Linked DNA regions of Homo sapiens. The protein of the gene in region 5 purifies or fractionates together with the protein of the main gene of each other region. This does not show direct contact. Each region holds a gene or a part of one and is shown on either strand. Other genes may lie near its edges.

Region 1 (3,500 bases), on a different chromosome or scaffold from region 5:
AAATAGGTGGGGTTAAGGTATCCATTTTCCCCATCTCCTCTGGACCACAACTCCCTTCCCTCGAAGCTAAGAAGCAGTAATGGTCCTCACTATTGCTAGCCTTGGATTTTTAGATTATCCCTTGTTATATCCTTAAATGCTAGCCCAAACCTAAGTAAAATGGTGTGAAACCCCAAATATATAAAAAAATTTTTTTTAATTTTCATTTTTTAAAAAACAGTCTTGCTATATTGCCCAGGATGGACTTGAACTCCTAGGCTCAAGTGATCCTTCTGCCTCTGCCTCTCCAACAGCTGGGACTACAGGCACACACCATTGTGCCTGGCTAAAGTCTCTCTTTTAAAAAAAAGGATAAAATGGTTTTAAGTTTGTGTGACATTACTAGTATTTTTCTTGATATGTATGAAATAATTGTATTTATCTAAAGCTAAGTAAACAAGAAACTGTAAGGGCAAAATGTTTAAAAATAAATGTGCCTTAAAACAAACAAAATGAATCTTATTTTATATACAGTGACACTTGAAATATGGTTGTCAAGGCAAAAAAATAAGTTACACTTTCTTAAAAAAAAAAAGTAAAGCCATGCCCCCCAAAAATCTACTTTACCAATCTTCCATATATTCCTGGAATCCTGCCAGATTTTTTTTCTTGAATTATTGCATCAAGGACTTTCCCCCTACTTCGATTCATTGCTAATGAGCTCTTTGCTTCTTCAACTTTTTGAAAGAGATCATGAACCAAACTTTTAAAGTTTGTTTCTTCTTGTGTAAGTTTTTGAAGTTCTTTTTCTTTCTAAAAGTGAAAATAAAATGAAATCCAGAAGCATTAACTTCTAAATATGACCAGTCATAGCACTGAATTAGTTGTAATGCTTTAATAACAATAAAGAAAGAAAGACCAACAATAAAAATTTGAACCAAAACTGAGCACCTGTATGGCAATTGCTGGTTTGGTTGTGGAAAATATGGATGGGTTTAAAAGGGGCATAAATTACTTGGGTCAATAAAAGAAAACATTAGGTGTAATATTTTTTTCAGGAGCAAACAGTTCATCCTGATAGAGAAGTATAGCTGGGGCTGTGGAAATCCCAGTTTGATACTACATAGTTATACATAAGTGTGCCCTAATTCTTCAGCTCTGCCCTAATGAAAAGCTGACCCAGAAAATGACTGGGCAGGACTACGGTTATGCTGTGCTTTATTTTAGCTGAACGGGGCTGGGGGGTACTGGAGAAAAAGCACACCTCTGAAACGAAAGATGACTGGATAGTCCTATTGCTATACAAAAATGCCAGGCTCCCAACAAGAAAGGAACCACAAACATGCACACATAAACACAACCTCTGTTTCTCAATCTCCAACTTCTCAGCAGCCATCTTTTCTAACTGGTATATTCCTCCATCCACTAGATTTAAATTATGTCTATTACTTACTGTACTGGCATAAAGTTTAAACCAAGTTACTGACATAATTCATCCCAAAAGAAACCGAATCCCAGGAAGACAGAAGCAGTCACTGGATCTAACTTAATTTACATTTAAATTCTACCTGGTCATGAAATTCCCTGATGACCAAATAGCATGCATTAACTAAAATGAAAAAGACTCATATTTATTTTCAGTATAATTACACTTCAAACAGATTTTTTTTTTATTGCCACCTTGCCTACTGAGGTTTTGGAGATCTTTGGAGATTAAAGTTTACGAAATTCCTTAGACATCTAATTCACTCAAGGATGGGGGACAGGCACCGATAAGCTATACATCTTAGTTAGTTTATAACATTTTGGAATGCAAGCAAAGAAACTACATCCATAAATTCAAAACCCAAAACACATTAAGATAGTTGTTTGTATATTCATTATATAAATACATATACACTTGTTTTTTATTTATCTTTAAATTGTCTATACTTAAGATTTAAAGAAACACAAACTTTCTTTTGTTTAAATTATTTCTACAGTGGGGTGGTGGTGGTGATTTACTTACTATATGGTGCTTCTGGGGATAATATAGTTTCTTGATAGTCTCAGTTCACATATGGAATACTGAAATGCTGACCTCATTCTTTTGAGATTATACAAAATGAAGAAAATTTATCACTAGTCACCTCTGACGCGGAGATTAAAAACAAAAATGTATAAAGCTGAAGTGGACGAATGATGTTCTGATGCAACAGAGAAGCAAAGATTTACCTCCTTTAATTCTTGTTCAGTTTGAGGGAGTTTTCCTTCTATATCTCTGATTGCAGCTTTCCTTTCTTTGAGAGTCTCAGAAGCTGCAATTAGAGCTTCCTTAGCCTTAGTTAATTGAGACACTGCAGTATTATGACGACTGAGATAGATATCAAGTTCTGACTGGGCTACATCCATCTTTGAACGTGCTTCATTTACCGATTTGCTGAAACCCATAAGTTCTTTCTCTCGACTCTGTTAAAATATGAGTTCATTAAATCTGGACAGATATTTACTTTCAAACCTACACTGAAATGAAACCATACATTTTATATTCGATTTAAGAAAGGAGATTCTATAAGCACAGTATATAGAAATAAGAAATTCTCACAAGTGGACTAGATTCAGTTTTTGCCTAGTTGTCAATATTCACTGTACATAGTCTTTTCCCAACTGATTTCACAAGAGCTTTGTGAGATCGATCATTACGCTGAGGAATAAAGACATTTGAGGCCTAGCTTTGTCATTAACATGGGGTGCAGGGCACATGAGTACTCAATATATATTAAATAAGCAAACAGTGAAAATCCACTAACTATGAAGTATCCCATCATGAAAGCTACTGCATTATCCATTGACACTTTATCACACAGGTATTCTAACCTGTAAAGTTTTATAATCTGACATTAGAACATGTCCATATTCCAAAGCAGACTCTATTAAGTGACACTTCATCACACAGGTATTCTAACCTGTTAAGTTTTATAGTTTGACATTAGAACATGTTGATATGCCAAAGCAGACTCTACCATGACTTTTTAATGCAGTCAATTACCATTATCCATTAACATAGGTATTTAACATGCTTAGCACTGTCAAAAATGCTGTGGTACATACAAACAAAGATAATTTTATGCTTACTCTTGTTGGGGTAGATAATACATATCAATGTGACAACTTCATGCTCTCGTTTTATTAATATAATGCTAAAATTATAGCTAACATTTATTTTCTTTCTCAGTACGTTATATAGATATATTTATTCTTTATTTTCACAAAGTAGATATATTCTTTCTCATTTTAAGGAAGATGACTTGGAGATATGACAACCGGCACAAGAACAGAGACAGTAAGTGATTGACCTAGGATTTGAACCAAGAACTGAAACAAGAGCCACAGCTTTTAACTATTACACAAGAGCTATAGAAGCAAAAACAAAAGAGACATTAACCTGCGCTTAGTGTGGCTCCAGGTTTTACAGGTGGCAACAAAATATGATGATTCAACACGCTTAGGAGTGGCATATATAATAATCAAGGTACTGTATT
Region 2 (3,500 bases), about 14 Mb from region 5:
CTTACAGACTGTGGGCCACGTAGGAGGAAGGGGGCACTCCCCAAATTTAACCAAACTCCCGCCTTCCCCACATCTCTGTTGCTCGCTCCTGCCCTCACCCCGGCGGAAGGACTTGCGGAGAGGGCGGCCCCCAGGACCCTCAACGGGTGGCAGCTGCCCCAACTCCTCCACACCCAGCGGCAGCGACTTCCCGGGCTTCAGCTTCGGCTTCTGTGGGTACAGGGGAGGCGCTGGCACCGGGCTGGGCCCCAGCCCGCATGCAGACCGTGGGCACAGACTCGCAGATCTGCACCCGGAGGCGTCCCCTCTTGCACGCGGTCCGCAGGACCCCCTGCCTCGCCCAGTCCCTCGCCCAGTCCCACGCACCTTCCTCGTGGCGTCAGGGCTGCCGAGGCGCGAGGAGCCAGGTTCCCGCAGAGGGCGTCCCTCGGCTTCGGCTAGCAGGCACTCGCGGTACAGCGGGGACTTGACGAAGCGCGCATAGCTGTCGAACTTCATCAAGTTGAAGATCTGCGGGGCGACCCCGGAACAGGTGAGCCGGGGCTGGGGTGGGGGCGCTGGGCTGCCTGCACCCAGGCCGGGTCCTTGGGGCTGGCCCCGCCCCAAACCTAGGGCTGGATTTCCCAAGCCCCGCCCCGACCTCAGTTCCTATACCCACCCCCGGGGTCCAAGCCCGCCCCGAGCTCAGCTAGGCTCCGCCTCTAACTGTCCTTCCCCGTGCCTCTGATACCGCCCTCTGAGCTCCGCCCTGCCTGCCCCGGCATTTGGCTCTGTCTCCGCCTCCAAATTTGCCCCCTCCGCTTTGTAGTTCAGACTCCCCGCCAGGGTCCGACCCCGCCCCTGCTCCTTTTGTCTCCCTTTCAAGGCCAATCCCCCCAGGATCGCCCACCTGAAGCTGCTGTGCCCGAAACATGTCCGGCCGGGGCTCGGCCAGCACCTCCTCGCCAAGCCAGGCCTGACGGTCGATGTTCACTGGGCTCAGCGCCTGGCTGGACAGGAACTCCTGGTAGATGTTGCGGGCCTCCTGAGCTAGCTGAAGGAGGAGGGACAGGAGGAGTTGGTCAGGGAGCGTGGCCCAGTTCCCCTCTCCCCAGCCCTCGGCCCCAGCTCCCCCTTCCCCCACCTGCTGGGTATCGCTGGCCGGGATCTGCTGGAAGCGCTCGCAGGCCTTCCAGAAAGTCACGTTTTCCGCGCTGAACTCCTTCTTCAGGAACTCCTGGGAGGGGAAGGAGGGGGAGGCAGGCAGAGACTCAGAGACACAGAGACCAAACTGGGGGATGTGATCAAAAAGATTGGGACAGAGACAGGGCCAAGAGACCAAGCCAGACAGACAGGGCCAGACAGACAGACGGAGCCAGACCGATCTGAAGACAGGGAGAGAAAATGAGAGGCAGAGACAAGGACAGGGAGAAGGAAGAAAAGTTCCCAGCTGGGAGAAGAGGAAGAGGGTGCTGCAGGAAGGCTAGATGAGGAAGCTGACAGAGGACCCCACTCTGGCCAGCCTGAAGCTCCATCCACGCCCTGCCCTCTCCCGTGTCCCCCCTTCCCTTTCCCTACCCCAGGCTTACAGTGAAGTAAGCCAGGCCCAGCGGGTCCTGCAACAGCCGCTCGAAGGACAGGGCCCAGCTGGCCACAGGCTGCTCCTCGGTTGGGAAGGGGCTGCTGGGACCACTGGGGAGGCTGTGGATGCTGAGAGAGCTGCCGCGGCCCTCGCCCTGGCCCTGGGGCCCCGTCGTGCTGCTCAGCTCTGCAGGGGGATGGACAAGTTGGGGTGAGCCTTGCTGCCTTCCCCAGCCCCTGGCACAACCCACCCTCCCCCATGCATCCACTCTGCAGCCATGTTCCCTGGAAAGATAGCAGGTGGCAGGGGTGTCCCCACCCATCTCCACCTCCCTCCTCCCTCCCACTCAGCCAGTTCTCCACACATTCTGTCACTTACCTCCATCTGACACAGCCAGAACCTATAAGAGACCCAACAGAGAAAGTCAGAAGAGCCCAGTGAGGATTCCCAGGGGACAGTTCTGGGCCCGACTCCCAGGAGCTGGAACTGCGTTCTCCTCCACCTGGGCATCCCCGGCCAGGTTCTACTTGGTCAGGGTTTTCCTCAGTCTGCCCCTGGCTCCCCTTCCATCCTGTGCCAACCACTAAGTACTGGGACTTATGGCAGGTACCTTCCAGCAGCCCCTGGTTCCCTCCTCCCCCAGCCCCTGCTGGGTGAGCCAGGTGTGCATAGCATGGTGGGTAGGAACAGACTTTAGTCTCTGCCACTTACTAGCTGTGTAACTTTGGGCAAGTTAGTTAACTTGTTTGCCTCCATCTGTAATCTGTAAATAGGAGATAATGCCTATTTACAAATGGAGGCAAACCATTTGCTTCCATCTTGATGTAAAGATCAAGTCAGTTTAATATATTCACAGCATTGGCTGGACACGGTGGCTCACGCCTGTAATCCCAGCACTTTGGGAGGCCGAGATGGGTGGATCACCTGAGGTCAGGAGTTCGAGACCAGCCTGGCCAACATGGTGAAACCCAGTCTCTACTAAAAATACAAAAAAAAAAAAAAATTAGCTGGATGTGGTTGTGGATGCCTGTAATCCCAGCTACTCGGGAGGCTGAGGCAGGAGAATCGCTTGAACCCAGGAGGCAGAGGTTGCAGTGAGCTGAGATTGTGGCATTGCCCTCCAGCCCGGGTGACAAGAGCAAAGCTCCGTCTCAATAAAAGAAAATCAAATAAAAATATATCCACAGCATCTAGAACATGGGCCAGCATGTGATATGGGCTGTATAAACATGTGCTGTCTTTGAGGAAGGAGAGGTGTCTCTGCAGCCAGTGATCTTACTATCGCACGTGTTGCCTATTGGGCCCAGGGTCCCATTACCACCGTGGGAGGGCACAAGATGCTGGTCTATAGTACAGAGCAGTGGTTCTCAAACTTCAGTGCAGAGTGGGAGGACCCCACCTCTGGAGATTCAGGTTCAGTAGGTCCAAGATGGGGCCTGAGGCTGTCCATTTCTACCAAGCTCCCAGGCGATGCTGATGCTGCTGGTTCAGGGACTACTCTGTGAGTAGTACTGCTGCAGTAACTAACTCCATCCTTGCCCCCAGTGCACAACTCTGGTTTCTCTGGGAATCCCAATCATTAGTGAAACAGAAAAACTCTCCTCTCAAAATGACTCTTGCGGTGGTTTCTCTTGTTTCTCTTTTTACCTTCCTAGCAGCTCCTCCAGCTTCCCCACTATCTCCCACTCATGCAATGTGGCCTCAACCCCTCTCTGGCTCTGTCCTGGGCACTTTGTCCCATCCACAGATCCACAGCTCCAGACACACATAACCAACTTCCTGGTAACGGCTCCAGCGCCTATCACCCCTGACTTGGGGTTAGAGGGCAGGACAGAGGCTCAGGGTGTGCGCGAGGAGGGCAGGGCCAGGCAGCCCAGCGGAGGGGGGCGAGTCCCCCCTCAAATGTCCCACAAGCCCTCAAGCTCCCAAATGGAAGTCC
Region 3 (3,500 bases), on a different chromosome or scaffold from region 5:
TAATATAATGTATGAATGTTTATGAAGTTATCAAGGAAATTTGAACACTACGATATTTAGTAAAAAAATTAACAGTAATTTATTAATATTAGGTGTGATAATAGCACGGTAGTTACATTTTCAAAAAGACACCTTATCTTTTAGAGATCCCTATGGAAATTTATGAATAAACTTATGTCTAGAATCTGTTTCAAAATAATCCAGGTGTAGGTCAAGTCGCTGGAGGCATGGATATAACACTGTCCATCAGCTGACACTGAAGCGAAATGGTAGGAGTTCATTTTACCATTTTTTCTGCTCTTATACATGTTTGACATTTTCCATAGTAAAAAAAAAAAAATTTTTTTTTTTTTTTTTTTTTTGAGAGAGTCTTCCTCTATTGCCCAGGCTGGAGTGCAGTGGTGTGATCTCAATTCGCTACAAACACTGCCTCCTGGGTTCAAGCAATTCTCATGACTCAGCCTCCTGAGTAGCTGGGACTACAGACACGCATTACTAGACCCGGCTACTTTTTGCATTTTGTGTAGAGACAGGGTTTCACCATGTTCCCAGGCTGGTCTTGAACTCTTGACTTCAAATGATCCACCCACCTCAGCCTCCCAAAGGCCTGGGATTACAGGCGTGAGCCACTGCATCCAGCCCAAAAATCAATTTTTAAAAAATATTATCTAGCCGGGCACGGTGGCTCACGCCTGTAATCCCAGCACTTTGGGAGGCTGAAGTGGGCAGATCACGAGGTCAGGAGTTCGAGACCAGCCTGGCCAATATGGTGAAACCCCATCTCTACTACAAATACAAAAATTAGCTGGGCGTGGTGGCGCGTGCCTGTAGTCCCAGCTACTCAGGAGGCTGAGGCAGGAGAATCGCTTGAACCCGGGAGGCGAAGGTTGCAGTGAGCCAGGATCGTGTCACTGTACTCTAGCCGGGGCAACAGAGTGAGACGCTGTCTCAAAAAAAAAAAAAAAAAAAAAAAATCTAATTTGGGCATATCTCAGAAGTTCATAAACACAGAAACATTAATATAGTAAAATTTAGTTTATTGCCATGTATTTATTTTAAAAAGCTTTCTTAGTATTTATGTCCATAAAAGCAAACAAAAGCACAAAATTCACAATGTCTAATTTTAGCAATTTACTCAAGAAGTGAAAAAAGCACCATCTATCTCATTTAAAGACATATTTCCAATATAATTTAAATACATTAAAATTGTTTTGATCAATTAGGTACTAAAAACAACTTTAATGATAAGTCAATTGAGAAGAATTTGTCATAGAATTCTTTTAAATATTTTAAAGTTTCTTTTATGCATGCATTTTTGTTACAAACAGGGTAATAAAAAGTTCTTAACTATACCATATACTATTAAGATACACTTCTGAGGGGAAAATAAAAACAGTAAAACAAGTTCAAAGAAAAAAGAATAATGGAAAATTTCCAAATGCTGAACTGGTATTTTTTTACAGGATAGTAGGTATCACATTGCTATGCTATTTAGATTCCATTGATACATTTAAAAATAACACAATTTTGTATTGAAAAAAATTTCTTAATGTCGCTTGCAGACATCCAGAGGGGTATATTATTTTCAAAATTCTTATAGCATTTTCAAAAGTTTAAAAACTCTTTCCTAAGGGATATCTTCTTAATCTTCTTTAACCTTTACGTGTACATCTTTTCTATGTTGTACTGTATTTTGTTTAAAGAGAATATTAGGCCGGGCATAATGGCTCATGCCTGTAATTCCAGTATTTGGGGAGGCTAAGGTGGGAGGATCATTTGAGCCCAGCAGTTTGAGACCAGCCTGGGCAACATGGTGAAACCTCATCTCTACAAAAAAATTGACAAATTAGCCAGGCATGATGGTGTACACCTGTTGTCCCAGCTACTTGGGAGAAGGCTGAGGTGGGAAGATCACCTGAGCCTGGGGAGGTAGAGGCTGCAGTAAGCTGTGATCACACCATTGCACTCCAGCCTGGTTGACAGAGGGAGACCCTGTCTCAAAACAAAAACAAAAAAAGAGAAAATTAAAAACTTCTTGGCTGGGCACAGTGGCTCATGCCTGTAATCTCACAACTTTGGGAGGCCGAGGTGGATGGATCACCTGAGGTCAGGAGTTCAAGACCAGCCTGACCAACATGGTGAAACCCCGCCTCTACGAAAATTACAAAAATTAGCCAGGTGGTGTGGCACGCACCTATAATCCTAGCTACTCAGGAGGCTGAGGCAGGAGAATCACTTGAATCCAGGAGACAGAGGTTGCAATGAGCCGAGATTGTGCCATTGCACTCCAGCCTGGGTGACAGAGTGAGATTCTGGCTCAAAAAAAATAAAATTAAAAAAATCTTAATTTCAAATAGAAATTTCACATACTAAGTACCAAAGAGGTTCCGAATAAATCTGCACACTCACATTAGTGTAATTCTTATCTTGGCATACGCTTCTTCCTGGTTAGGGCTAGATCCTTCCAAAAGACAATACATTCAGAGTTTTTGTAATTCTCAACAATAAGTACTGGGATGGATAATTCAGTTTTAGGCTTTATTCAAAAGTTACTTGTGACTAAAACTGTAAGTATAAAAATAATTTTTTAAAGGAAGGGATAAATGTACAAACTCTTAGCAAGTAGAGAAATAAGAGTTATGGACATCTTCTAGTGAGTTGCCTTAACTCATAAGTACTGGTACTCTTAACCCTAGTTAGTTACAGTGTAGCCAAGCTTTTAAAAAAGAAAAGGAGAAAAAGAAAAAAACAGCTATTTTCACAAGCTTCTTACCAGCTATGATTGTTGTTGCTTGTCGCCTCACATTATTTTTATCCATGTATTCACCATAGTCTATTTTCCCTTCCAAATAAATTCGAGACCTGATATAAATAAAATGTACAGTTTTTAGTTGAGATCTTAATATGCTTTATAAGAGTCAGGTCAGGGTGGTACTGAGTATATGACAAGGATGAAATATATAATCATATATAAGCTAATTTTTGCTACCACTTCTCAAGGTTCAGGATTAGGAGTACTGAAACAGAGTGTCCAAACAGACTTGGTAACATCTAGGTAAAACAGACAATGTTTTCATCTGTCAGCTATTTCTCTTACGGAAGTTAAAAAATAAAACAAAACAGTTCAAAGGGAAATTTAGTGGCAACATTTAAATCTCTAGGAATAATTTCCAATGTATCATTTTCCTTGACCTTTGATTTTGGAGTCCCTAACAGACTTGATTTTCACTTATTTATCAATTATTTTCTATGACCTTAGAAACTTAGATGATTAAAATTCAAAATATGGATTTGTAGTTAGTTTAGTATAATATTACCCTGAGTTAATTACTAAGACTATTTCTACACTGTATCAGCTTAGTATACCACTTAGAGGTAATTACTAAGACTATTTCTACACTATCTAGAGGCTAAACTAGATAACAAACCTAATCGTGATTTTCAAGAGTGGAAAGATGACAATAGTACCAGTTTTGAGAGTCTACCACCACCAAAAAAGT
Region 4 (3,500 bases), on a different chromosome or scaffold from region 5:
ATTATTTCATTTCAGAGAGTTTAAACAGTTAAAAGTTAAAATAGCTAGTGCTTATGCCTTTGATATGCGCCAAGCATTGTGTGAAGCACTTTTTGTTCATTTTCAGTGAATCCTCACAACCACCCTGTCAGGGTGGGTACTATTGTTTCTGTTTTAGAGATCAAAAAATTGAGGTCTAGAGTAACTCACAGACATTTATGTACATAGTAGGGTTGGGCTTTGAAGTCATGCAGTGGGACATGAGTCCATATGTGGCTCATGTAAACGTTTATTTTTTTGAGACAGAGTCTCGCTCTGTCGCCCAGGCTGGAGTGCAGTGGTAGTGGCAGTGGCGTTATCTTAGCTCACTGCAACCTCCACCTCCCCAGCTCAAGTGATTCTCCTGCCTCAGCCTCCCGAATAGCTGGGATTGTAGGTGCCCGCCACCACGCCTGGCTAATTTTTGTATATTTAGTAGAGACGGGGTTTCACCATGTAGACCAGGCTGGTCTCAAACTCCTGACCCAAGTGATCCACCCGCATTGGCCTCCCAAACGGTGGGGATTACAGGCATGAGCCACTGCGCCCAGCCTCATGTAAACCTTATGCAATTCTCCAGCACCTTGCTGCAGAGTCATGTATCTTATCTGTATTTGCATCAAAGAGGACTCTTAAGACATGCCTGATTAAATCCTAGTCTCTTGCCCAGAAAAATACCTTCATATTTATCTCAAGTAGTTTGCCTTAAATATATTTTCAAAGTTAGTTGTAGGAAATGAAGTTGTATTTCCTATGCCACCCCTTTAATAAAACAAAAATTTTAAATGTTTAGAATTTAAACTTTAAAAGAACGTTCTAATGTCTTTAGGCTATACTTAAAATGGATTCATGATATTTCTACTTGATTTAATAATCCTTCAATTTTAGTTTGTTACTTTTGTGTAGTATTCATTTCCTTGTACTTTGAACATAGATTATTGATAAAAGGAAGTTAATTCCAGGGTATTGGTAGGCATTAACTTAGAAGTAGGTAAGTTAATTTCTTGAATAAAATATTTTGTCTGGAAATTGACTAGTTCACCTACAAAGCTTATGTTTAATTGAAGGGCTTATTATTTGTGGTTATACCTGCTTTTATTGACTTGATTTGATGGTTCTGTACTTACTTCATATTCTGTTTGACCTTCATTTGTGGGTTTGTCATTTGATCATACTTTCTGGTTGCATGGAATTAATTTTAAGGCCCTCTACTGTGTGGCATATTGGCCATGTTATCTGTTCAGAAAAACTAGTTTTAATCATGAAACTGGAGACCTGAAGAATTATAAGTATGCAGCTGACTTAGTTAACATATGTCAATCAGTTACTGAAAGGGACAGTGTTAGCTTTTTGTTCTTGTATTTTTCTTAAACTGGCATCATCAGATATCTACTTAAAGTCAGATTCCTAAATCAATGGCATGAATTATTTGTAAGATGTTGGAAATTATTAATATTTAACTTTATCTGTTTTTAATTTTCATCCTTAAAGAATAAGGAAGAACTTTATTTTGCTACTTGTAGTTACTCGTGTTTTGATAATCTGTTTTGAAAAGAATTTAAATCAGTCAAGACCAGGGCCTCAAGTTCTTTGATAACATTTGGATTGAATGAGTCTAAGGTTTTTCTTAAATTTTGTAATAAAGGTGCATTTAGTGTTTTTATTAATTGCCAGTAATACACTCACTTTATTAAACTTTGACAGAGTACGTTTATTCTCTAATTCTGTTTATATTCATACTGAAGTATGCCTTTAGACCCCCTTAGTTGAAGTTTCTAAATAACTGCCTTTTTCAGCATCACATTTTGCATCAAATTATTATATAGAATTAAACCCCAAATACAGATAGCGGTGGTCTCAGGGCTGTCACTTACGTATCTTTGTCAGACATAGAACATTATCCTGCATGTTTTGGGTCAGAGAACTAAAAATGTAATTTAATTTAAATGAACAAATAGTTACTGAACATCTGTGTCTAATAGCACTGTGCTTGGTTCTTTGGGTGATGTAAAAGTAAGTTAAGATATGGGCCTTGGGCACTGGCGTGCCTGTAGTCTCAGCTGCTTGGGAGGCTGAGGCAGGAGGATCACTTGAGCCTAGGAATTTGAGGTTACAGTGAGCTATGATTGTGCCACTGCACTCCAGCCTGGGCAATAGAGTAAGACTGTGTCTCTCTAAAAAAATAAAAGATACAGACTTTATAGGAGTAAATACATATAAATAACAACAAAACCTGGAGAGAGTTAAAAATATTCATTTTATAACTAGTAGAATTCTAGAATATGGTAAGCAACTTCATCTTGAGGGAAATAGGACATTGACATAGAGGAAAACAGAATTTAGGAAGAGGCAGGCAAACTTGGTTAAACTGTTAGCATAGGAGTTAATATTCCTTTTGGTTACAGTGGCTGAAATCATTTACATTAAATTGTCATTTTTGAAAGAAGCTTTTTTTTTTTTTTTTTTTGAGATGGAGTTTCTCTCTTGTTGCCCAGGCTGGAGTACAATGATCTGCTCACGCAACCTCCGCCTCCCAGGTTCAAGTGATTCTCCTGCCTCAGCCTCCCTAGTAGCTGGGATTACAGGCATGTGCCACCACACCCGGCTGATTTTGTATTTTTAGTAGAGACAGGGTTTCTCCATGTTAGTCAGGCTGGTCTCGAACTCCCGACCTCAGGTGATCTGCCCGCCTCGGCCTCCCAAAGTGCTGGGGTGATAGGCATGAGCTACTGTGCCTGGCTGAAGGAAGCATTTTTGTGTCAGAATTTGTCCTTGTAAATTACAATATCTGTTATATAAATGATTAAAGAGTTTGAGCCGCTGCATGGACTGAGGTCCTCAGAGATGACCACTTTTTTATTTATTTACTTATTTATTTCTGTGAGAAGGAGTTTCACTCTTGTTGCCCAGGCTGGAGTGCAGTGGCGTGATCTTGGCTCACTGCAACCTCCGTCTTCCGGGTTCAAGCGATTCTCCTGCCTCAGCCTCCCAAGTAGCTGGGGTTACAGGTGCCTGCCACCACACCCAGCTAATTTTTTGTATTTTTAGTAGAGACTGGGTTTCGCCATATTGGGCAGGCTGGTCTCAAACTCCTGACCTCAGGTGATCCGCGCAGCTTGGCCTCCCAAAGTGCTGGGATTACATGGAGATGACCATCTTTAAAGATGGGACTGAAATTACTAGCTTTCTGAGTTGAGGACATGTTCTCCATATCCTGTTGGGTGTTTTCAGCATCCTTTGTAGGCTCATATATTTGTCTCTCCTTGGACCATAAATATTTGGGTAGTAGAAGGTCTGAAGAGGTTGGGAATACTGAAAATGCTGTTGTCTTGAGGAAAAGGTAATAGCAGACGCCGATGTAATTTTGTTTTAAAAATAATTATATGTTTAATTCAGCAGTTGGCAGAAACTTTTGGGAGGCATCTTAAACTGTCCTATTACTCCCAGACCCCTAGTTAAGGAAAATCGTTGGGACCAATACT
Region 5 (4,077 bases):
TATTACTGGAATTGAATTAATTAATATGATTTTGAACAGTTCATGTTCAAACTAACATCCTGTAAAGTAGACACTGCAAGGAGTTACTGATGAAAGAAAAGTTGTTCATAAAAGAAGCCTCCTTTTATAATTGACTTGCCTTAGACTTATTTAATAATGTTTCATAGTATTTTTTAAAAAGTATCTGAACCTTGTACATATTTACAATTATGAGACATCCTATCTAAAAATTTATATTTTCGATTTAACATTTGTGGCTGGCAGTGATAATTTTTACTCTCTGGTACTATGAATCATCTCATTAAAATCCTCTCAACTGAATGACATTATCCCAATTTGCAAATGAAAGAGAGACAGAGAACCTAATGATTTGCCCCTGGTCTATACCTGGTACTTGGAGGTAGGATTCAAAGCCAGGCAGTTCTGACTCCAGAGGCTGTGCTCTTAACCACTCTATACATTACCTCTCAAAATAAAAGATTAATTGGACTCAAGTGAAATTGCTTGTATAATTTTTAATCAAAACTATATGCTGGCCACATTAACTTCTGTGCTGTCATCATGATCATAGAATAATAACAACACTCAATTTATTTCTCTATACTAATAACTTTGATAAAATGTTATTATTTATTAAATCTATTTTTCAGAAACCAAAAAACAGTAAACATGAGTCAAGATGAATTAAAAGATAAGCCAATTTTTAAGGCCGAGCGCAGTGGCTCACACCTGTAATCCCAGCACTTTGGGAGGCCAAGGTGGACGGATCACTTGAGGCCAGGAGTTCGAGACCAGCATGGCCAACATGGTGAAACCCCATCTCTACTAAAAATACAAAAATCAGCTGGGTGTGGTGGCGCATGCCTGTAGTACCAGTTACTCCAGAGACTGAGGCAGGAGAATTGCTTGAACCTGTGAGGCAGTGAGACAAGATCACACCACTGCTCTCCAACCTGGGCAACAGAGTGAGGCTCTTGTCTCAAAAAATAAATTAAAAAGCCATTTTTATATTCATCAAAGTAGAGTTAGGAACAACCAAAATTGCCAAGGATAATTAGGGACATTATATAATGATAAAATTCACCAAGACAGTGCTAAAAGTGTAAGCACTTATTATCAGATCTTAAAAATACATGAAGAGACCAGGTACAGAGACTCATTCATTCCTGTAATTCCAATGCTTTGGGAAGCCAAGGTGGGAGGATTGCTTGAGGCCAAGAGTTCAAGACCAGCCTACTCAACATAGGGAGACCCTATCTCTACAAAAAATCAAAAATTAGCTAGGCATAGTGATATACATCTGTAGTCCTAGGTACTGAGGAGCCTGAGGTGGGAAGACTGTCTGAGCCCAGGAGTTTGAGGCTGCAGTGAAGCATGACAGAGTTGCTATGCTCCAGCCTGAGTGACAGGGTAAGACTCAAAAAAAAAAAAAAAAACATGAAGCAAAAAGTGGTAGCATTAAAAGGAGGACTGGACAAATCTTCATTTACAGTTGGAAACTTAAACATTCCTCTCTCAGTAGTCCATAGAATTAATAGAAAATTAGCAAAGATGTAGGAAAATGGAATAATACTAATAACCAGCTAGATTTAATTGACATAAAACCCTTCTACCTAAAACAGCAGAATAAGCATTCTTTTCAAGTACACATGGAACACTCACCAAGATAAACCACATCATGGGTCTTAAACCTTAACAAATTTAAAAGAGATGAAATCATATAAAATATGTTTTTTGACCATAATCTAGAAATCAGTAACAGCAAGAAAATCTCCAAACACTTGGAAATTAAACAACACATTTCTAAATAACTCATGATACTACAGGGAAGTCTTAAAAAATATTTTAAAATAAATGAAAATATCACCGTGCTTGGAATGCAGCCATGCTGGTGCTGCAATTTATAACAATCGACTGCTTTTTACTAAACAAGAAAAAGTTCTCAAATTAACACTCTAAGCTCCCACTTTAAGAAAGTAGGAAAATCTAACTGGGTGTGGTGGCACACCACTATAGTCCCAGCCACTCAGAAGGCTGAGGTAGGAGGATCATGACCCCACGAGTTTGAGGCTGCAGTGAGCTATGATCATAACACTACTCCAGTCTGGGTGATGAAGTGAGACCTGTCTACAAAAAAAAGAAGCCCAAACTAAACCTAAAGCAAGCAGAAAGAAGAAAAAAAAAAAAGAGGCAGAAAATAAATGCAATTGTAAACAAATTAATAGAAAACAATCAAAAAACTAATTTTTGAAAAGAGCAGTAAAATTGATAAACCTCTGGCAAAATTGACAAAAAAAGAGAAGGAATTCCAATCTTTGATTCCAATCTTAGGAATCAAAGAAAAGATAACAGTATAGATCCTCATTAGAACGACACAAAGAAAATACCATGAACAACTCTATGCACATAGGATTAGATGAACCAATTCCTTGAAAGGCATACAGTACCCAAACTTAAATAAACCTCAATAAATTCTCTATTTTTAAAAATTGAACCATTGTTTAAAACCTTACTAGCAAATTCATAAAACATTTAAAGATATAACAAATTCTACAAATCTCTTCCAGAAAGAATAATCACTTTGCAATTCATTTTACAAGACCAGAATTAACATGATACCATACCAAGATAAAGATAACACAAGGAAAAAACAAACAAAAACAATTGCACAATATCCAAAATGAACACAGACATAAAAATCCTCAAAAAATAAAAATCTAGATACATAAGCTGAATAATGTACCATGACCAAGTTTGGGGTTGGGAGGAAATATAAGCTGTTTCAAAATTCTGGAATCAGTAAAATCCATGATTTTAACAGTCTAAACAAAAAGAATGACCAAACTGATACAGAAAGAGCATAGAAAATTCAGCATCCACTCATGAAACTCTGCTAACAACAAATTAATAGATGGGAACTTGCTCAACATGACAAAGGGAATTTAAGAAAAGCCTACAGCTTGCATACATAATGGTCAAAAACAATGCTTTCAAAATCCTAAGATCCAGAACAAGACTGAGATGGCCACTTTCTCCATGTTATTGTTCTGGCCACTGCAATCAGGCAAGAAAAATCATAGACTAAAAAGAATAAAATAAAACTGTTCCTATTCGTAGTTTATGTAGAAAACTTAATGAGTTAACAACAAAATCAGGCAAGAAAAATCATAGACTAAAAAGAATAAAATAAAACTGTTTCTATTCGTAGTTTATGTAGAAAACTTAATGAGTTAACAACAAAATAACTCCCAAAACTAATGAAGTTTAGCAAGGTCACAGGATACAAGGTCAACAAACAAAAATCAAACACATTTGTACATACTAGCGATGTGCAATTGGAAACCCATGTTTCAAAAATAATACAACTTAACAATAGTTCCTCCAAAATGAACACTGTGGAATATATGCTGAAAAATGACATAAAATGCTGATAACTGAAATGAAAGAGGTCCTAAATAGATACCTCATGTTCATGGATTGGAAGACACAAAATTGCATTCAAAACCCCAGTAGGATTTTTTGTAGATACAGAGTAGCTAATTCTAAAATTCATATGGAAGGCAAAGAAACTAAATTAGCCAAAACAATTTTGAAAAAGATTTCAAAAAAATTTTGAAGGAATCATGCTGCCCAGTTTTAAGACTTACTATAAAGCTGTGATAATCAAGGCAATCTGGTATTTATGAAAGGATAAACACATAGATCGATGGAATAAAGTCCAAAACCAGACTCACATAAATAGCAATTGATTTCTGACAAAGGTGAAAAGACAACTCAATGGGGAATGGAGAGTTTTTCAACAGACGATTTTAAAACAACTGAACATCCATATGCAAAAAAATAAACCTACCTAAATTTCACAGCTTATACAAAAATTAACCTAAAATGGATCACGGATCTAAATGTAGAACTAAATTTATAAAATTTTTAGAAGAAAAAAATCCATAGGCCGGGCACGGTGGCTCATGCCTGTAATCCCAGCACTTCAGAGGCTGAGGCGGGCAGATCCGTTGAGGTCAGTTCAAGACCAGCCTAGCCTATATGGTGAAATCCCAACTCTACTAAAAATAAAAAATA
Region 6 (3,500 bases), on a different chromosome or scaffold from region 5:
AAAGTTTGAGAAATGGGAGGGTGAAAGGTGGTTCACCTTAAATGTGCCCACAGAGAAAGGTGGGAAGATGAGTGTATGCCGTTTATCCTCAGTAGGCTGTTTATGCTGTTTACATCGAAGGCAGAGGAGGTTAGAAAAGGAGAAAAGTTCTCTTCATGCTCTGAGCGTGGCCTGGCTGTGAAATAGTTTCAGTAATTCTCAATCTGGTTACTGATTTACAAAGTTGACTGAATATGTGATTGTTTTCCAGGTTGTGCTAGAATACTGATGGAGGGAATACAGAGGCAAATCTTGAAAAAAATTAGAGTGGGTTCAGAAGAAATTATATATTGGGCAAGTAATATTTCAGTATAAATGAGATTATATGTTTGGAAACTCCTAGTAACCTCCGAAGGGCAAAGTCAGTGTATTTGACAATACAACTCTCTGTGTGTATGTGTTCATGTACTTCCTCATAATCATTGAAAATCTTCCAGATCCCCTTCTAGCTCAGGCCCTCCTCATATCTTTTGGGTACTAGTTCAGCTTCTGCAGATTCAGGGACAAATTGCAATAATAGAATATACTTCAGTCTTGCTGTTGAGATAGTAAGAAATCATTATGAGGAGTCATCAAGGTAATCAGCAATTCGGAAATTTCTCACACCTGTTATAATGTGTCAAACCATATCTTCATGTTCATGGTTTAGCAATATGTGCTGTTGACAACATGAAATAAGTGAATTTAATTATAGAACTTAAAATGTAATATGTAAGACATTTAAAAAGCACAGGAAATAGAAAAACCCATGAACCTACCACCCACATCAAATGTTAATATTTTGCCTTATTGTGTATCTTTTCTCTTTTTGCTTTTGAAGCAGAATGGCTCATGCAGCTAAGGCACTCATGCCCCTCTTCGTCTCTCTGGAGAGAGAACTACTGTTTGGAGTTAAGTTTGTGTCAGTGCCATATTATTAAAAAAATTTTTTTTAACCATAGGTATATCTATCTACAAACTATATTTTAATGTTTAATGTTCTGCTGACTGAAGTTAAGAAATATTTTTAAAATTATTGTAGTTCTTCACATGATTCTCCACATGGAAAAATGTAATAATTTCATAATTTTTAATTTTAGTTAGCATGGTATTAGAAACATAGAAAACATATTTTTGGCGTAACGTTCTGACCTAATAACATAAATTGAAGTGGCTTTTAAGCTTTTTGTAATCTATAGAATGATGTGTGTTTTACATTTTGACCTAGTACCTATCATCTCTGTATGTATATATTTCTGTGATGTTTATATATAATACGGGAAAAGTTTCCCCAAACTAGTTTCCTGTACTGTGTGTGATTTATACTAGTCCCTTCGTATTTGTGGGGTGGGGTGTAGAGGTGGTTCCAAGACCTCACATGGATACTAAAAATCTATGGATACTTCAGCCCCTAATATAAAATGGGGTAGTATTTGCATATAATTCATACATATTCTACTGTATACTTCACATTGTCTGTAGATTACTTATACTACCTAATACCGTTCATTTAGGAAACAATGATAAGAAAAAATGTCTGTATGTATTCAGTACAGCCACATTTTTTTTTCCTGAATATTTTTTATTTGTGGTTGATTTAATCCATGAATCCAAAACTCAGGGCTATGAGAGCCAACTGTCCTCTGTTATTCTCTAGACTATTGACTTTTAAAATGCCTTTCTCAGGCTTAGTAAATTGATTTTTTGACCTAATAATAGATTGCCACCCATAATTTGAAAATCATTAAGAGTAATCTTAAATTTGATCTAATCATAATTAATCTAAAATTAAGACTGACTTTTAATATATAAGCACAAGCTTTTCCAGTATAATAAAGGTGTTTTAAATGATAGGTCAATACATTAAAATAACATTCTTTACACAAGATTTGATTATATTTATTTTAGCTAATTCATTAATTTTTGTAAATTAAGTCCGTGTATGTCTTACCCATTTAAAAATTAGATATTAATTAATTGAAGTGTTTTAGAGAATATGCGATGGTTAATGTAGAATATTTTCTTTCTGTCTATTCTTACCATGATTTACCTGGAGGGAAGGAGGGCCATCATTGTGTCAGGGAAGGGGAAGGAGCTCTTGAGCTCTTGCTGGCTTAGATGTTGACCCCCAAGCCCTGTCACCAGTGAACTCTGTACAGCCTTAGAAAACCCCTTCTTCCTTCTGGCTTTCAGTTTCCTCACTTATTAAATGAGGGTGTTATCTAGCTCATCTTGAAACTACTTTTATTCTGTGAAACATAAGGTAACTAGGACCTGGGCTTCAAGATATTAGAATCGGTTGAGAATATGAAAAGCTGATGAAAAAGAACAGGGCTTTCTGTTCGAATTACTGGTTTTGCTGTTATGTTTGAGCGAGGATTAAGCAGGTTGTATCCAGTTGAATATAGTTCTTGGGCAAGAATTATTCCTCCATTATAAAACCATTTCAAAATAATCTTGACCTCCCCAAGATCTCCCTCCCTTTTTGTGGCATTATCCCTCAGTCGTGAAGGACACAACTAATGTTGAGTGTATATGTGAACATACATAAGTGCAAAGAACGGCAAAGGAACGTTTTTCATTCTGTTTCAGTTAAGTGTCCTCATAGGCAAATCCAAAGCTTCGGAAAGAAATCTATCACTTTTCCTAAGCCCTGGGGAATGTTTCATGAGTCCTACTCAATTGCAGTAATCTGAGGCTTTGGGGAATTTCCTTTTTTTAACATGAATTACATGCTTGGAATAGAGTGAGAACATATCACCTAAACTACACGTCCTTAAAACAGCACTTTACATGATGAATCCTTCATGTTTTGTCTGTTTGTATGTTTACGAAGCAGGAGTTTAAATTGCAGCTTGGGGTAAACATGGATACCATTGTTTACCCCAAACCATTTCTTCAAGACCATTTCTTCCCATTTTGCTTCTGAGAAGACAGGTCAGGAAATGCCCTTGCCTGGCTCTTCAGGTGGAGGCAGAGTTGGGGCAGATTCCTGGTTTCCTTCAGGGTTCCCATTTTCTTTTGGTTTGTAGATTATTTTGGGGCAGCCCAAGGTTTAGAGGGACCTAGAGACCTAGTTCTAACTCATGTCCCTGGGGATTGACCCACTGAAGAATGTTTAAGAAATTAAGAATTTTTAAAGTAGAGCTCTGCCCCTACCTGAGGGACTAGTGAAAATATATTTTTTCTTGAAAGACGCCAGGGTAGACATAAATTGCTGGGAGAGGATCGTCTGAACCACAGGGAAGCATAGATTAGATTTCTTTTAACACCTCTAATTATGCAGTAACTCAGTTCTCTCTCAGTAGCAATATGCAAAGCATGACTGATACGTCTGTTATTTCAGCAGCACTTAACCCTCCATTTATAGAAGTGGATTGGAATTTCTAGACCTCTGGAATCTGATTCTGTAAATGTTCTCACCTCAGGCCAGGGGCCAAGGCTAACCAGTATTTTGTGACACCCTGTGCTTGGCACTAAGC
Region 7 (3,500 bases), on a different chromosome or scaffold from region 5:
TATCTGGTAACACCTTCACAAATCACAAAGGAAAACTTAAGAGCCAATCTCTAAAAATTTGGTTTAAATACATAGAAATCAAAGGTATAGCACGGCAAAATATCCAGCAATTCCTCAAGTGAATTTACTGGTAGCTAGGATTTATCTCAAATGACAATATTCAATTTTAGTAAGAGATTTTATTTTTAAATGTTTCTAGTAACCCAAAAGACTTCCACCCGTGACATGTACTACGTCAGACTAAGGCAATATGTTTTCTTTGGAAACGAAACAGTAACGTCTATTTGTAGGTAAAGGGAAGTTAGGAATAAAATAATCTTATCAGCTCAAAACTACCCTCCTTGGGCATGGAGCTTGGAAGGGTATGAAAGAATGTAGCCAGGGATAAAGTGAGCTCAGGTTTCTCTTATAACGAGATACCCATGTGTTCTAAGGTTCTAGGTATTGCCCAAGCACAGGGTTTCTTTTTTATTTTTTCCTGAGATGGTGTCTCATTATGTCACCTACTTTGGAATGCAGTGGTATTATGACACTGACTCATTGCAACCTCCGCCTCCCGGGCTCAAGCCATCCTCTGACCTCAGCCTCCCAAGTAGCAAGTAAGCTGAGACTACAAGCGCACACCACCACACCTGGCTAACTTTTTATTGGTTTTAATTTTTTGGTAAGATAGAGGGTTTCGCCATGTTGCCCAGGCTGGTCTCAAACTCCTAGGCTCAACGGATTCACTTGCCTCCACCTCCCCAAGTGCTGAGATTACAGGTGTGAGCCACCACACAGTGGAACAGGGTTTCTTAATGGACATTTTCAGTCGGATAATTCTTTGTTGGGGAGTAGCGGCAGCAGTGCTTGTCCTATGCACTGTAGGATGTTTAACAGCATAACTGGCCTCTACTCACTAGGTCCCTATAGCACCCCTCCAGTTATGACAACCAAAAAGTATTTCCAGACATTGCCAAATGTCCCCAGGAAGGGGGAAACAGGAGATGGAATTTCTGTAGTATAATCAGTATAGATAAGTACTAAAGAAGTTTTTTTTAGGAAAAAAACTTAGTGTTAATATTAACATTTATTAATTATACTGGCCCCTACAAAATAAGGATAAACAAAAATTAAAAATGAATAAAGCACTCATTTAAACCATGAACTTTTACTATGGGATACTGGATAAAGTTTGAATTAACATTTGTATTAATCCAGAAAGGAGAATTTTTAGAATTCAAAATTAAGACGAGTTTACCTGGTTGACTGCATTTGCCTTGTAGTTTCTGGATCTTCAAACATCTTCACAATTGGTTCTGTTTCTGCCTGAAGCTGTTTCAGTTGTGCAACCACTGTGGTTCTTTTCTCTCTCAAAGCTAATTAAAAATGCAGAAGAGCACTACAATGTTAAGGAATGTTAAATTGTGCTACTCATCATGAGAATGTCTGGAAATTTTTCAGTGTATTTAAACTATACATATATTTATTTACCCCCAATATATTCATATGCCATGGGCTACTCAGTCAGAAATGTCCCCGATCCCTAATTTCTTTTTTCTACTAATACAAAGGCACAAAAAGGAAAAGGGAATCCTCTTCCTACTCTTGAGGGAAACTAGAGAATATACAGCCTTGGGGTGACAGAGGGATGTGAAAGAAAAAAAGGGTAGGACCCAATTATCTATCATTTAATTCTCCATTGCAGAAACTTCTTTCCAAGTGTTTTTATATTTGTTCTCATTTAATTTTCTTAGGTGAATATTATCCCAGAGTTTTTGAAGAAAAACTCAGAGGGATTTACATATTACTATTACAGGTTATCAACTAGGTTGAATGGAATTTAAATCCATTAAATAATCTCTTTTAACCACAAATCCAGCTCTATAATCTCTCAAACCAAATTCTATCGTTCCTTTTACTATACTATGAAAAGGTGGAGAAAACTTGCACATAACCAACTCTGGTAACACCTTAATGTTTCATTAAGAAACTAAGAAATAGGCCAGGGGCAAGGGCGCACGCCTGTAACCCCAGCAACTTGGGAGGCCAAGGCGGGCTGATCACGAGGTCAGGAGTTCAAGACCAGCCTGGCCAATATGGTGAAACCCCGTCTCTACTAAAAATACAAAAATTAGCTGGGCATGGTGGTGGGCACCTGTAGTCCCAGCTACTCGGGAGGCTGAGGCAGGAGAATGGCGTGAACCCGGGAGGCGGAGCTTACAGTGAGCCGAGATCGCACCACTGCACTCCAGCCCGGGCAACACAGCGAGACTCCATCTCAAAAAAAAAAAGAAAGAAACTAAGAAATAGTTTCCTTTTTGTTTATCCATGACAAACTAAAAAAGAGATACTGTTATTGCAGGGAACTACAAGTCAAACATGTGGATTATGTTTAATGTAATAATGTCTGTATTATATATTAGAAAGTATATTCTAGAGCAGTCTTTCTGAAACACAGAAGATCTATGATCAAATTTTGAGAAATGCCAATTTAATCACAGTATACTGTATTTCTCTACTGCCAAAATTCTTGGAACCTTTAAAAATGTAATGTGCATTGAAGAAATGACACAGAATTATTTCCCAAACTTAAGAGGACCACTTAACAGTTTTGATTAAGTAGGTCTGGTGTGTGGCCAAAAACCTGCATTTCTAACAAGCTCTCCCAGGTGAACTGATGATGCTGGTCCTGGGGACCATATTTGGAGAACAATGTCTACACTAGATGCCTCAAAATTAAAAAAAAAAACACAAAACTCTAAGGCACACAATGCACTAACTGAAAAAGTTAGCAACCCAAGAACTGCAACATTCTCAGATAATTCTAAGGAATGTGAATCATAAGCACAACTTTGATGATACATACTATGAAATGAAGGCATCTGATGACCATATTTTAAAGTAGTTCCACATCTTTCACAGGGAGAAAACAATATATTTCGGAAGATATGAAACCTTTATATAACCTCTCACCCAAAGAACATTAACATTCAAATCATATTTAAGCCTTTTGGCTAAAGCTGTCTTATAAATCATAAAACTTTAATACACACATCCTCAAGTCACAAGACAAGTTTCAGTTCTAATGACAAAACTTACCATGAGGAATATCATCAGAATAAAGGTTTTTGTATACATCCATAGCAAAGTCTACCATGTTGGTATCACTAAGAAGGTCCAATTTACCTTGTAATAATTCCTTTTCATTATATATCTGCAAAAGAAGATAACTTTCTAATGAATATATTTAAGTTCCCCAAATAAACTGATTAATACTAAAACTAATTTACCTGGAAATATATTTCAAGAAATACTTTATAAAATACGATAAACCATTAACATTCCCCTCTTGTAATAATGGCAAGCAATATGGCAAGCAACCAACCTATAGACGTAAAAGTATTTTACTTACCTAAAAATTTTAAAATGAAGAGAATTACTGTAGACATTCCCACCTACTTCTGATTTACATGACCTTATTTTTTATGTGTCCCTACAAACCATCTCTTACCCTTTCT

What was found.
Region 1: the proteins of NUDCD2 (region 5) and SMC4 purify together in Homo sapiens (affinity purification with mass spectrometry, with the first as the bait; one large-scale study listed by BioGRID). This does not show direct contact.
Region 2: the proteins of NUDCD2 (region 5) and RGS14 purify together in Homo sapiens (affinity purification with mass spectrometry, with the first as the bait; one large-scale study listed by BioGRID). This does not show direct contact.
Region 3: the proteins of NUDCD2 (region 5) and SSBP1 purify together in Homo sapiens (affinity purification with mass spectrometry, with the first as the bait; one large-scale study listed by BioGRID). This does not show direct contact.
Region 4: the proteins of NUDCD2 (region 5) and G3BP2 purify together in Homo sapiens (affinity purification with mass spectrometry, with the first as the bait; one large-scale study listed by BioGRID). This does not show direct contact.
Region 6: the proteins of NUDCD2 (region 5) and CCDC50 purify together in Homo sapiens (affinity purification with mass spectrometry, with the first as the bait; one large-scale study listed by BioGRID). This does not show direct contact.
Region 7: the proteins of NUDCD2 (region 5) and EIF3E purify together in Homo sapiens (affinity purification with mass spectrometry, with the first as the bait; one large-scale study listed by BioGRID). This does not show direct contact.

Annotation. Positions count from the first base shown.
Region 1 is NC_000003.12:160,416,650-160,420,149, reverse strand, and holds part of SMC4 (structural maintenance of chromosomes protein 4), read right to left. Parts: intron 2,428-3,500; coding exon 2,194-2,427; intron 793-2,193; coding exon 607-792; intron 1-606. UniProt on the Homo sapiens protein: Central component of the condensin complex, a complex required for conversion of interphase chromatin into mitotic-like condense chromosomes.
Region 2 is NC_000005.10:177,364,424-177,367,923, reverse strand, and holds part of RGS14 (regulator of G-protein signaling 14), read right to left. Parts: intron 1,962-3,500; coding exon 1,940-1,961; intron 1,748-1,939; coding exon 1,569-1,747; intron 1,217-1,568; coding exon 1,124-1,216; intron 1,034-1,123; coding exon 890-1,033; intron 511-889; coding exon 367-510; coding exon of another isoform or gene 211-366; coding exon 99-210; intron 1-98.
Region 3 is NC_000007.14:141,744,858-141,748,357, reverse strand, and holds part of SSBP1 (single-stranded DNA-binding protein, mitochondrial precursor), read right to left. Parts: intron 2,863-3,500; coding exon 2,774-2,862; coding exon of another isoform or gene 2,697-2,773; exon of another isoform or gene 1,021-2,696; intron 1-1,020.
Region 4 is NC_000004.12:75,649,412-75,652,911, reverse strand, and holds part of G3BP2 (ras GTPase-activating protein-binding protein 2), read left to right. Parts: intron 1-3,500.
Region 5 is NC_000005.10:163,446,026-163,450,102, forward strand, and holds the end of NUDCD2 (nudC domain-containing protein 2), read right to left. Parts: 3' UTR 501-4,077; downstream 1-500. UniProt on the Homo sapiens protein: May regulate the LIS1/dynein pathway by stabilizing LIS1 with Hsp90 chaperone.
Region 6 is NC_000003.12:191,353,394-191,356,893, forward strand, and holds part of CCDC50 (coiled-coil domain-containing protein 50 long isoform), read left to right. Parts: intron 1-3,500.
Region 7 is NC_000008.11:108,238,718-108,242,217, forward strand, and holds part of EIF3E (eukaryotic translation initiation factor 3 subunit E), read right to left. Parts: intron 3,197-3,500; coding exon 3,082-3,196; intron 1,359-3,081; coding exon 1,241-1,358; intron 1-1,240. UniProt on the Homo sapiens protein: Component of the eukaryotic translation initiation factor 3 (eIF-3) complex, which is required for several steps in the initiation of protein synthesis.